2 linked regions of the Homo sapiens genome follow. The protein of the gene in region 1 interacts with the protein of each later gene in a pairwise test. Each region holds a gene or a part of one and is shown on either strand. Other genes may lie near its edges.

Region 1 (7,630 bases):
ATTAAGATACTGATACTACCTTTTTTTGCATCTGCTTTCACTCTCACACCAGAAAAGACAAGAACACTAAATAAATAAATAAACAAATAAATGAATAAATAAATAAACAAATAAATATATAAATAAATAGTGAAATAAAAAAATATTTATTCCTGATTTTGTTTTATTGCTTAAAAGCCTGCATAGGTGAAAGATAAAGTTTTGTTTTGTGGATGGTGAGAAAGTCACCAGAGGAAGCAGGAGAGAAGTGGGGGAAGTATTTTAGCAGTGAAAAAGTTGATGATTTGTTGTTCATACCTACATACATATCAGTTAACAGTCCTGAAAAATATGTTGAAGAAACTGTGTAGTGTTAGAACTGTATAAGTCTCTAGGGAAGTCTCTTGTTTCTAAAAGGCAGGTCTAGCTGCCTAGAACAAACTTCACATTCTTTATCTTGAAAAGGAAGCAGCAGATGCAGCAGTCTCCCCAGAACCCCGCTATTTCAGACAAAGATGTCAGGGGAGTCTGCCAAGAAGTGGAACTCAGAATTTCATTTCCAAATATTCTGAAGGCCATAAGGCTAAGGAACCTTACACATGTGGGGCAGAAAAAAAGAAAGATCAGACTGAATTCTGACTCAGACTCTCCCACTATGCTTTAAAATTTGGAAACTGTAAATAGAAATTAATTCCAAAAAGGAAGTAATAATTTTTGAATAATCCAATTTGTGGATTCAAAGGATTCTCATGAACTGGCTTTTAAATAGAAATAGTGATTTTTATTTATTTTATGGCTGTAGATGTTGTAACTGCAGGTTTTTCCTTCCAGGAGTGAGTCCGTGCTGCTGCACGTGTCCCAGCCTCTGAATCTAGAGCTCAGTGCAGGGCCCATCACTGGACTGAGGGACAGGCTCATCCAATTCTGAGGTAAGTCTCCACCCATAGACAGCACTTCCACTATCTAAATATTATTACTGTTAGGACCACATAGGTAATATTTCACCCTTTATCAGATATTTTACTTCCTTATAGACATAAGTGAACAACATAATCATGCAACCCTTTTGTATCTGTGTCTGTATAGTCAGATTTATAGCACTAAGTTTGAAAGATAGTGAAAAACAAATACATTTTGGCCTCATATATACTGAGTAATGTAATGGGAAAAACCAGTAGTGTAGCAAATTTTAAAAAGGAGCAAATGGAACAATGCTCAGAATGAAGGTGAGTTAGTTAATGTTAAATACAAAATTTTACATTTCCTTAGTGTATTCATTTGAACAGCTAAGAACTGTTCTTTTGGGGATTATGGTTTAATGGGGATTGCTGGGGTTTTTAAATTTTTTAAATGGATGTTTATCATGAATTGTAAAAAAAATTAGTTAATGGGTAAACATAAAAACAAGAAATCGTTTTGTGAATACAAGTAAAATTACAAACAAAAAGAAGTTCAGTTTAATTGCAATATGAAAAGCTACAGGTTAAGTTTAAAATCCAGCTTTTCAGCCCCAAGCTAGCATGGAGGACCACAGAGAGACTGGTAAAAGATTTTACAGAAATCTGCTTTAAATTGTCACTTATGACATGTACTTACGGATTTTTATCCAGTCATCAAGAGCAGTTCTTGAGTAACTGAAAATCTTCACATTCTTTCCAAAATGATAGCACTAGTTTTTAAGAATAAGAAACATTTCTAAATAATAATCTTGATAACAGCATACTATTTAGGGCATATAATGTGCAAATTTTGCTTTGAAAATTGGGTTGAAAGAAGTTGGTCCTTACATTTGGCTCTCAATATGTAAGTTTTCAAACCATTTTTAATACCTGTGGTTATTGTTTTGTTTGTCTTGTAGTTAAAATTAATCATCTCTATGCTTTATTAGAAGTTACAAGCAAAATTGTCCTTGTGACTTTACATTTCCTGGTAAATTAACTTCTTGATAGAACAATTTTTGCTTATTGACACATGTCTATGCATGTTTTGTTTCTTTCTCTTTTATTTATTTATTTATTTTTGCAGTGGATATTACTCTGAATCACGATGAGCCAACAGTCATATCTTTCGATGTGGAGATTTGAGAAGCATGTGTATTGGATGTGACCGTCCAAATCCGCCCCATATCACTGCAACACCTACAAGTTTTCTTGCATGGGGTGCTCAGACTTTCACCTCCGGCAAATATTACTGGGAGGTCCATGTGGGGGACTCTTGGAATTGGGCTTTTGGTGTCTGTAATAAGTACTGGAAAGGGAAGAATACGAATGACAATATATATGGAGAGGAGGGACTCCTTAGTCTTGGATGTGCCAAGAATGACATTCAGTGCAGTCTCTTTACCACCTCCCCACTTACACTGCAATATATCCCAAGACCTACCAGCCACATAGGATTATTCCTGGATTGTGAAGCTAGAACTGTGAGCTTCGTTGATGTTAATCAAAGCTGCCTTATATACACCATCCCTAATTGCTCCTTCTCACCTCCTCTCAGGCCTACCTTTCGGTGTATTCACCTCTGACCAGAGATAAATCAGAAATGTGTTCATCTGCTGTGAGAACCCCTTTATTCCAGGAAGCCCTCTTCCTTGTGCCTTATCAAACAGGACAAATAGGTTCTGTTTTATGTCTTGAATTGCCTCCTAATGTTATTAAAACTCATTTATTGTGTTACTATTAAAAATGGTAAAAACACTAAAAGTATATGTTTTGGTTCTTTATTAATTTTTGAAAAATCATCATTCATGATCATGGCATAAAATATATTCTGTTTTTTTTTCTTTATTTCTGACTGCCACTGAGTGAAATAATAGATGACAGACATGTCTGAATGGAGTTAAAATCAATGGAAGAGAGTCGGGATCTTTTGCTTCATGCAAAAGCTTGGAGTGAAGTCTTAATGATAGCTGGGAAATGTTTTTCTTTCTCTTTACCTAACTATATTGCACTTCTCCATCACATTTCATTTTACTAATCTATCCTTTGAGTTAATATTATTTGACCTTCCATGCTGGGCTTCATTTTGGAATTCTCACCACATAGATAAATAATCCTGCATTATTAGTGTGCTCTTCTACATTGAAATACACAAGGTGGTCAGAACAATGCTGGATTAATTGAATTTTAAAAAATAACTAAATATTGACTCCTACCTCAAAACACACACAGTCATTTCCAAATAGATTCCAGTTCTGAAGGTAAGGGGAACATGATACAATATTCTCATAAGGATTTCTTAACCAGGACAAAAATTAACAATTAAAAAAATTAGTAGGTTTATATTAATGAGGACTTCTGTGTTTCAAAAAACATGATACAAGAATTGAAATGCAAACAATTAGTGGAGAAAGATATTCACCTGAACATATATAAAATAAAATGCAATACATGTGCATGATGAATACTTAAAATGTATTTTAAGTATTTTTCCAGATTCTTCCAGAGTGGCACAGAATAAACTTGGATGGCAGAGTCAATGATGAGATTAGCTGTGGAAATGGGAAACCGTTTTTTGGAGGCAGTAGTAATGCTGCGAACTTATGAAAACAACCAAGTATTCAGTAGCAATTAAAATGTGTCTCCATAAGATTATTTTACAGATGCGTATCTGAAATCTGAAATTTGGGAGAACATTCTACTAATGTTCTCCAGTGAAAAAATACAGCTGGAAGAAAGAAGGGAGGGAAGATGAAGGAGAGAGAAATAGAATGCATTTGAGAGAAAATGCTATTTAGACTAAAATAGAATACTGCAGATACCATGACAAAGTGGTTAAGGTGTGTCTTATGGAGCAGAAATGGCAGCAAATACCACAGTAAAGAGATTTACCATTGGATTGTTAGTTCCGGCTTTTATTCTGTCAATGTTGTGGCTTCTAAACACATCAGTAATCTCCTTTGATCCATGTGCTAATTAACAACCAACACTCTGCCCCCTCTCCCAGATTCTTTCATCATTTTAAACCTAATCTAATTCTAATCCGGATGGTCACTGTAACACATGTAATCACCTAAGAATTTTAAAAATATTTTTGATGAATAAATGAAAAATTAGCTAGGTGCAATGGCATAAACCTCTAGTCTTTTTTACTTTGAAAGCTGAAGTGGGAGGATTACTTGAGCCCTGGAATTCAAGGCTGCGGTGAGCTAAGACTGTGCCACTGCACTCCAGAGGGTGAAACTTTCTTTGGTATAAATAAATAAATGTGCACTTAGAGGAATGCTTGTGCCTTGGGAAGAAACTCAAGAAACAGTTTAATCAACTTAGTTAATTTCTAGCATATGTTTACTCTGATAAGATTGATGATAGATATGCCTCATTCAGGCAGTGGTTTTTACAATGATAGTGTGATGCTAATTTAATCAGTGATGAAAAGGCGTGTACTAAATATTGCATAAACCTAATCATCTCTGTCTCCACCTTTCTTAATACCCTAAATATCACTAAATAGGTGGTTGTGGTCTTCAAAGATTCACCTAAATGGATGTAGAAGAGACAAGCTCATATTTCTCCAGAGGAGGACAGCACTTAGAGTTAACTGCATTCAAGTGATGACCTCTGAAAGTCAACTCTGCAGGGAATGAGCTCCTGATCTTGGGGAGTACTTAAAAGAATTTTTTCTTGGAAGAATTACTGCAGGAAACATTCATAGAACCTTGGGGTGAGTGCAACTTCTATGGAGAAAATTATTTCTCTCTTCCTTTAAAATAGTAAATTACAGTGATAAAAATATCTAACTGTCTAAACTTACCGAATGATCTTATTTGTAACTCATATTATTGCTATTCATTTTATGACATGAGGTTATGACATGAGGTTATTGTTGTCATTTTGTGTGTTCCAAAAGTGTTTGATATATTTTTGAAAAATTTTAGATATCTAGTGTTTGCTGCAATAGATTTGTATGCATCATGGGTATATGGAATTCATATTAAAACATATATATGTGTACTGCATGTACTAATATTGGTACACTTAATTAAGTAAAAAAGGATAATTATTGAATACTGTAAATGTTGTGCTTTCATAACCTTAAGCTTTTAGACATGATTTTAAGTTACTGAGGCAATGATGAGTTAAAAATGGTGATACTAAAGGAAATAAGAATGCTCTCCAAAATACCCTAGCTTAGAAATCAAAACACGATTGTTTAGCAGATAACTGTATAAGGAATGATTTGATACTTGATACTAGCTGTCATTTTAATTGAGGTTTACCTCAGATGAAACTGTGAAAAATTCCTTGAAATGGCTCAGATGGCCTCTGAAAAATATTTGCAATTCTTAAATTTTCACTCTTGGCACTTAAATTCAGCAGTGTTTAGTAAAAGAGAGTAAGGTAAAGGACTTCAAACTGCCAAGGCAAAGATTACAGTTTGTATTGGTCAGGGTTCTCCAGAGACACAGAACCATAGGATGTGTACATAACTATAACTATATATATATATATATATATATATACACATACCAAAAATACTTACAATTGTGGTACAATTGCCTATCGTATACCATACAGGTTTGTAGCCTAGGAACAATATGCTATACTGTATACCATAGGTGTGGTTTGTGTAAGTATACCCTATGATGTTCAAACAATAACGAGACTGTCTAACGCGTCCCTCAGATCATATATCTGTCCTCACTCTACACATGACACTGTACAGGAGAGGAAGTCCACTAGGGGAATTTGTTCCCTTGATTATGGAGTCTGAGAAGTTGAACATAGGCTGTCATTAAGGTAGTGTCCTGGAGATACCAATATCCTGGCTGAGTTAGAATCAGCTTCAGGAGAAAGAGAGGAAACTGCCTTGTCTCTGCCCTTTATCTTCAGTCTGAGCTACCAGCTGATTGGATAGTGTCCACCCACACTGAGGGCTGCTGTTGCCCACTCAGCTCACCAACTTACATGACTCTCCGGAAACACCTTCACAGACTCACCCAGAAATCATGCTTTACCAATTCTCCATGTATTATTTAATCCAGTCAAGTCAACACCTATAATTAACCATAATACCATAGTAATATAATGATATATATTTCAGTTTTTAAAAAACTGACTATATGTCAGTTCATAGTTTGAGTAGCCCAAAGAAGAAGTTAATTTAAGCCATAAGAAAAATAAACCCAACATTTTTCATTATTTATTTTATCTCCTAGTGATCCTAGACTGGTTTAATTGCTGTCTTTTTTTTTTTAATCTGGTCGGTTGGTTTGTTCTGGGGTTGTTTTTGTTTTAAAGAGCCGGCTTCTCGGTCCCTCTCTCTAAAAATATGTCATAGCAACCTCTGACCATCTTCTCATGTTTTGTTACCCAATGTAGGTTTTCTACTCCTCTCCCATAGTCATTCAGTTGTTATTTGAAAGAGAAATAGGGACAAGCATGTTTCATTCTAGACCACTTAAGATTAAAACCCGAGTTTCATGTCGACATCCAGGGAGTAGGTTTTTGAACAGATTTGCATTATGCTATGGGCAGGAACCAGGAGTAGAAGAGGTTGTGAGTCATCTAGTCAGCAGTGTCTGCTAAAAAGCCTAAAGACTCTCTTTGTGTTTGAATTTTTCATTTTTGTTACAGAGGAAATAGTTTGTTCCGCTTTAATGAGCACTGTCAAGAAGAAAATATAGCTATCACATATCACCACATGTTCACGGATTTTCACCAACCCAGACCCCAAAATGACATGCTGCTCTTTCTTCTTCAGAAACATGAATTCTGGAATCTTGCAAGTCTTCCAGAGGGCACTCACCTGTCCCATCTGCATGAACTACTTCCTAGACCCAGTCACCATAGACTGTGGGCACAGCTTTTGCCGGCCCTGTTTGTACCTCAACTGGCAAGACACGGCAGTTCTTGCTCAGTGCTCTGAATGCAAGAAGACAACGCGGCAGAGAAACCTCAACACTGACATTTGTTTGAAGAACATGGCTTTCATTGCCAGAAAAGCCAGCCTCCGGCAATTCCTTAGCTCTGAGGAGCAAATATGTGGGATGCACAGAGAGACAAAGAAGATGTTCTGTGAAGTGGACAAGAGCCTGCTCTGTTTGCCGTGCTCCAACTCTCAGGAGCACCGGAATCACATACACTGTCCCATTGAGTGGGCTGCTGAGGAACGCCGGGTAAGTGATGCCTCTGAAGATCTATTTCTATACAGGACACATGAAATTCTTGTAAGTCTATTTCCTTCGAGATTGGATGATGCCATCTCTGTGTCCCCTTAAGCATGTCTGTTATGAGCTTCCTTGACTTCACACCTCTCAGATTTGACAAACATGAGGAGAAACAAAGCAAACTCTCTTTTCTGTGGGTTAATTTGTCTCTCATTTTGGGTCCTTCGTATATCAGAGTGTGAATGATACTTTATTGTCCTCACTTGTGCTTCAATTCGTGGCTGTTTTGCAGGAGGAGCTCCTAAAAAAAATGCAGTCTTTATGGGAAAAAGCTTGTGAAAATCTCAGAAATCTGAACATGGAAACCACAAGAACCAGATGCTGGAAGGTTAGTACCGTATGACTCTACCTTCTCCGGGAACTTATAGTGAACAAATGGGTGACTCTTAAAATAGGAACTTGATCTCAACCCATAATGTTTCTGGAATTCAATAAACAAGGAAAAAACACTTGAGAAAAAAACACCCTAATTTTTTATATAAG
Region 2 (2,962 bases), on another chromosome or scaffold:
TGAGCCTAGGGGTTTGAGGCTGCAGTAAACCATGATTGCATCACTGCACTCCAGCCTGGGTGACAGAGTAAGATCCTGTCTCAAAATAACCCCCAAAACACAATTATTAAAGATATAATTTTAAAATGTGTTCATACCCATACCTATTAAAAAGCAAATACTAATGAAAACTTAGAAAAGACTTGTGGCATGACTTTCTGTTTGTGGATGGTTTTATTCCAATTAAGATGTATTCAAGGCTCAATGAGATCTTACAAAGAAATTCAGGAACTAGAAGGAGATGCTCTTCTACCTACAAAATAAATGGAGGAGCTGAATTAAAACTGCTAGGAGGGATAAAGTGAGTTGTATCAGAAATGCAGAAGCAATACAAAGATTTTGAGATGTACATAGAAAGGTATTTATTGCAGCACTGTCCACAACACTGTCTGGTTCTTGGGTTGCTGCAAATCTCTGGACTCCTTGTAAAATCAATCCTAGTTGCCTTTCTGCTACGTTAGCCAAACACAATCCTAACTGATGCAGTATATTTTTCCTGTGTGTTCTGTTTTCACTTTTTACTTATTTTCTCTTAGCATGGATTACATTTTTAATTTGAAATTTGTTATGAGAAATAAAAAATATTTTGAATGTCTGACAGCTAAGGAAGAAATGACAGTAATCCAGACAGTAGAGAAATTAGTGGAAGGCATGAAATCATTTGAGAAATGTAATTTAATGTATAGCACAGCAACCACTGTATTATGATCAGGATATTGAGAACTTGAATACGTCGCACTTTATAACAAACAGACAAATAACCAGAAAAAAGAGTTGATTTAAGAAATTTATTATTTTTTTTAAAAAAGCAACTTCCAGGGTTGTCATTGTACAGGTTTTGCCCAGTCTCCTATAGCATGGTATTATGATCAGGATATTGAGGACTTGAATACGTTGCACTTTATAACAAACAGACAACCAGAAAAAAGAGTTGATTTAAGAAATTTATTATTTTTTTAAAAAAAGCAACTTCCAGGGTTGTCATTGTACAGGTTTTGCCCAGTCTCCTATAGCATGGTATAGTGATAACTGATTTTTTATAACAATGACTCAGAGGCATTGAAGATCCATAACTATCTTCTGAATTATCACAGAAAGAAGAAAGTTAGAAGAGTTTAATGTTAAGTGTATTAAAAATCATATTCTAATTCTTTTAATTTGGTTATCTGAGTATGATAATATAGGAGAGCTCAGATAACAAGAAAAGGCAATTGGTTAGAACACTCCATTCCCACAGGATGTGCATTAACAGACTTTTTACTGCATATGTCTTTATATAGTTTGCAAACTAATTCAACCATTTTACACAGCATTAATTTTTTTTTTAACTGGGTTGACATTGGGCTGAAACATTTGCTTATCATCTTATAATTATTTTTTCCTGTTCTTTAATGGATTTTACCCCCATCTGACATAGTGTTTGGACTTTAGTGTATGTGACACTTCAAGATCATCTCTGCCCATTCTGATGATAGTTACAATGAGGTTACCCATGGCCAGATATCGAAGACTATTAATTAATCCACCAGCTCTGTTCTCAACTTTGGTAAAAGAGAGATCTTGTGTCTCACTGGAGGGTGCACCAAGCTTCAGGCAAGAAACTGTGAGCTGGCTGTCAACAGAATATGGTTCTTATCAAGGTTCTTATTAATGCTGTGCAAACAAGGGTCTCGTCATTTCAGTAACTATTTGTACATTTATAAAAGCAATACAGTCATGGGAAAAACCAACAAGCACAGCTTGGTAGAATAACCTGCCATGAAATATCATCGGCTTTATAATAATTTACTACAACTGTTCTTTTTATTCACACTGGATAGGAAATGCTTCCATCTAACACATGGAATACGAATATATACAACACAAATTTGGCTTTAATAAAAAAAAAAACAGTTCAAAAGGACAATAACACGGGGGCTGAAAACAATAATTTTGTGCAGTTTCCTGATCATAATCACATGTCTCCTGCCTTTTACAGGGAATGACACAAGTATTGATGGATTTTGTAAACCAGTTAAAACATTTTCCTGCCTGTAATAGCCCACTATGAAGATATCACCTTGTTCATACAGTCTTATAGAAGTTTCTCCTTCTTAACTGTAATTCTAAATAACCGGGGATGACACACTGAGTCGGTTTAAGAACAAATCCTGCTGAGCCTTTTCAAAATCATCATACATTTGCAGTTCCCTATTCCATCAAAATGCTTTGCCGAAACAACATCTTGTAACTGCACTGGGCATATGACTGATGTGCTGAATGGTGCATTTGCACTGATGCTCACCATCTCGTTGCTCAGCAACGTCAGCATCTCGGCTTGAACTTCTGAATGGCCGCGGGAATCACGCGGCAGTGCCATGGGGTGGGTGGACTGTTTTAGACTGCCAGCAGTCAAAACAGTTGTGATGGGCTCAATGTCTCTACACTGTGAGCCTGGGGAACCCATTCTCCTATGGAATGGTTTTCAGGGGTCCAGCAATGTCACTGCAGGTGGCTGAGATATTCTGGCCCCTGCTTATGAGGAACTACATGAAAGAAGAAGCCTAGTGTTCTAAAAATTAGACAATGCGGCAGGGTTGGGGAGAGGCTGGGGGGTTGCTTTCATGAGTCTGGAAATTTCTGGTTTTAGCTCTCTGAGAAGGCTGGGAGACTCTGTTGTAGGCAGCTGTGGGAGAAGGCTAGGGTTGGAGGTACACCTGGAGATGTGTCAGTTTGGTGTTGGCACTGCAGATTCAGCGCCCGTGGTCCCTGACTAAGGCACTCTGCCTAGATCTATTTTCCCCTGACTGTACCTTTTATGCCCCCTGGCTTTCCCATTCTCCCTGGAAACTCCTGTTTGTTTTTGCTTTCTAAGATAGAGATAGCAAGTAGGGTTCATTTCTCTCATCTGACTGTTGGGTTCATCTGACTGTTGAGTGGCGGC

What was found.
Region 2: the proteins of TRIM51 (region 1) and ANTXR1 interact in a two-hybrid assay, tested with the Homo sapiens proteins (one study listed by BioGRID).

What each region holds. Positions count from the first base shown.
Region 1 is NC_000011.10:55,878,744-55,886,373, forward strand, and holds the start of TRIM51 (tripartite motif-containing protein 51), read left to right. Parts: upstream 1-4,553; 5' UTR 4,554-4,641; intron 4,642-6,681; 5' UTR 6,682-6,685; coding exon 6,686-7,096; intron 7,097-7,379; coding exon 7,380-7,475; intron 7,476-7,630.
Region 2 is NC_000002.12:69,247,179-69,250,140, reverse strand, and holds the end of ANTXR1 (anthrax toxin receptor 1 isoform 1 precursor), read right to left. Parts: 3' UTR 814-2,962; downstream 1-813. UniProt on the Homo sapiens protein: Plays a role in cell attachment and migration. Interacts with extracellular matrix proteins and with the actin cytoskeleton and thereby plays an important role in normal extracellular matrix (ECM) homeostasis.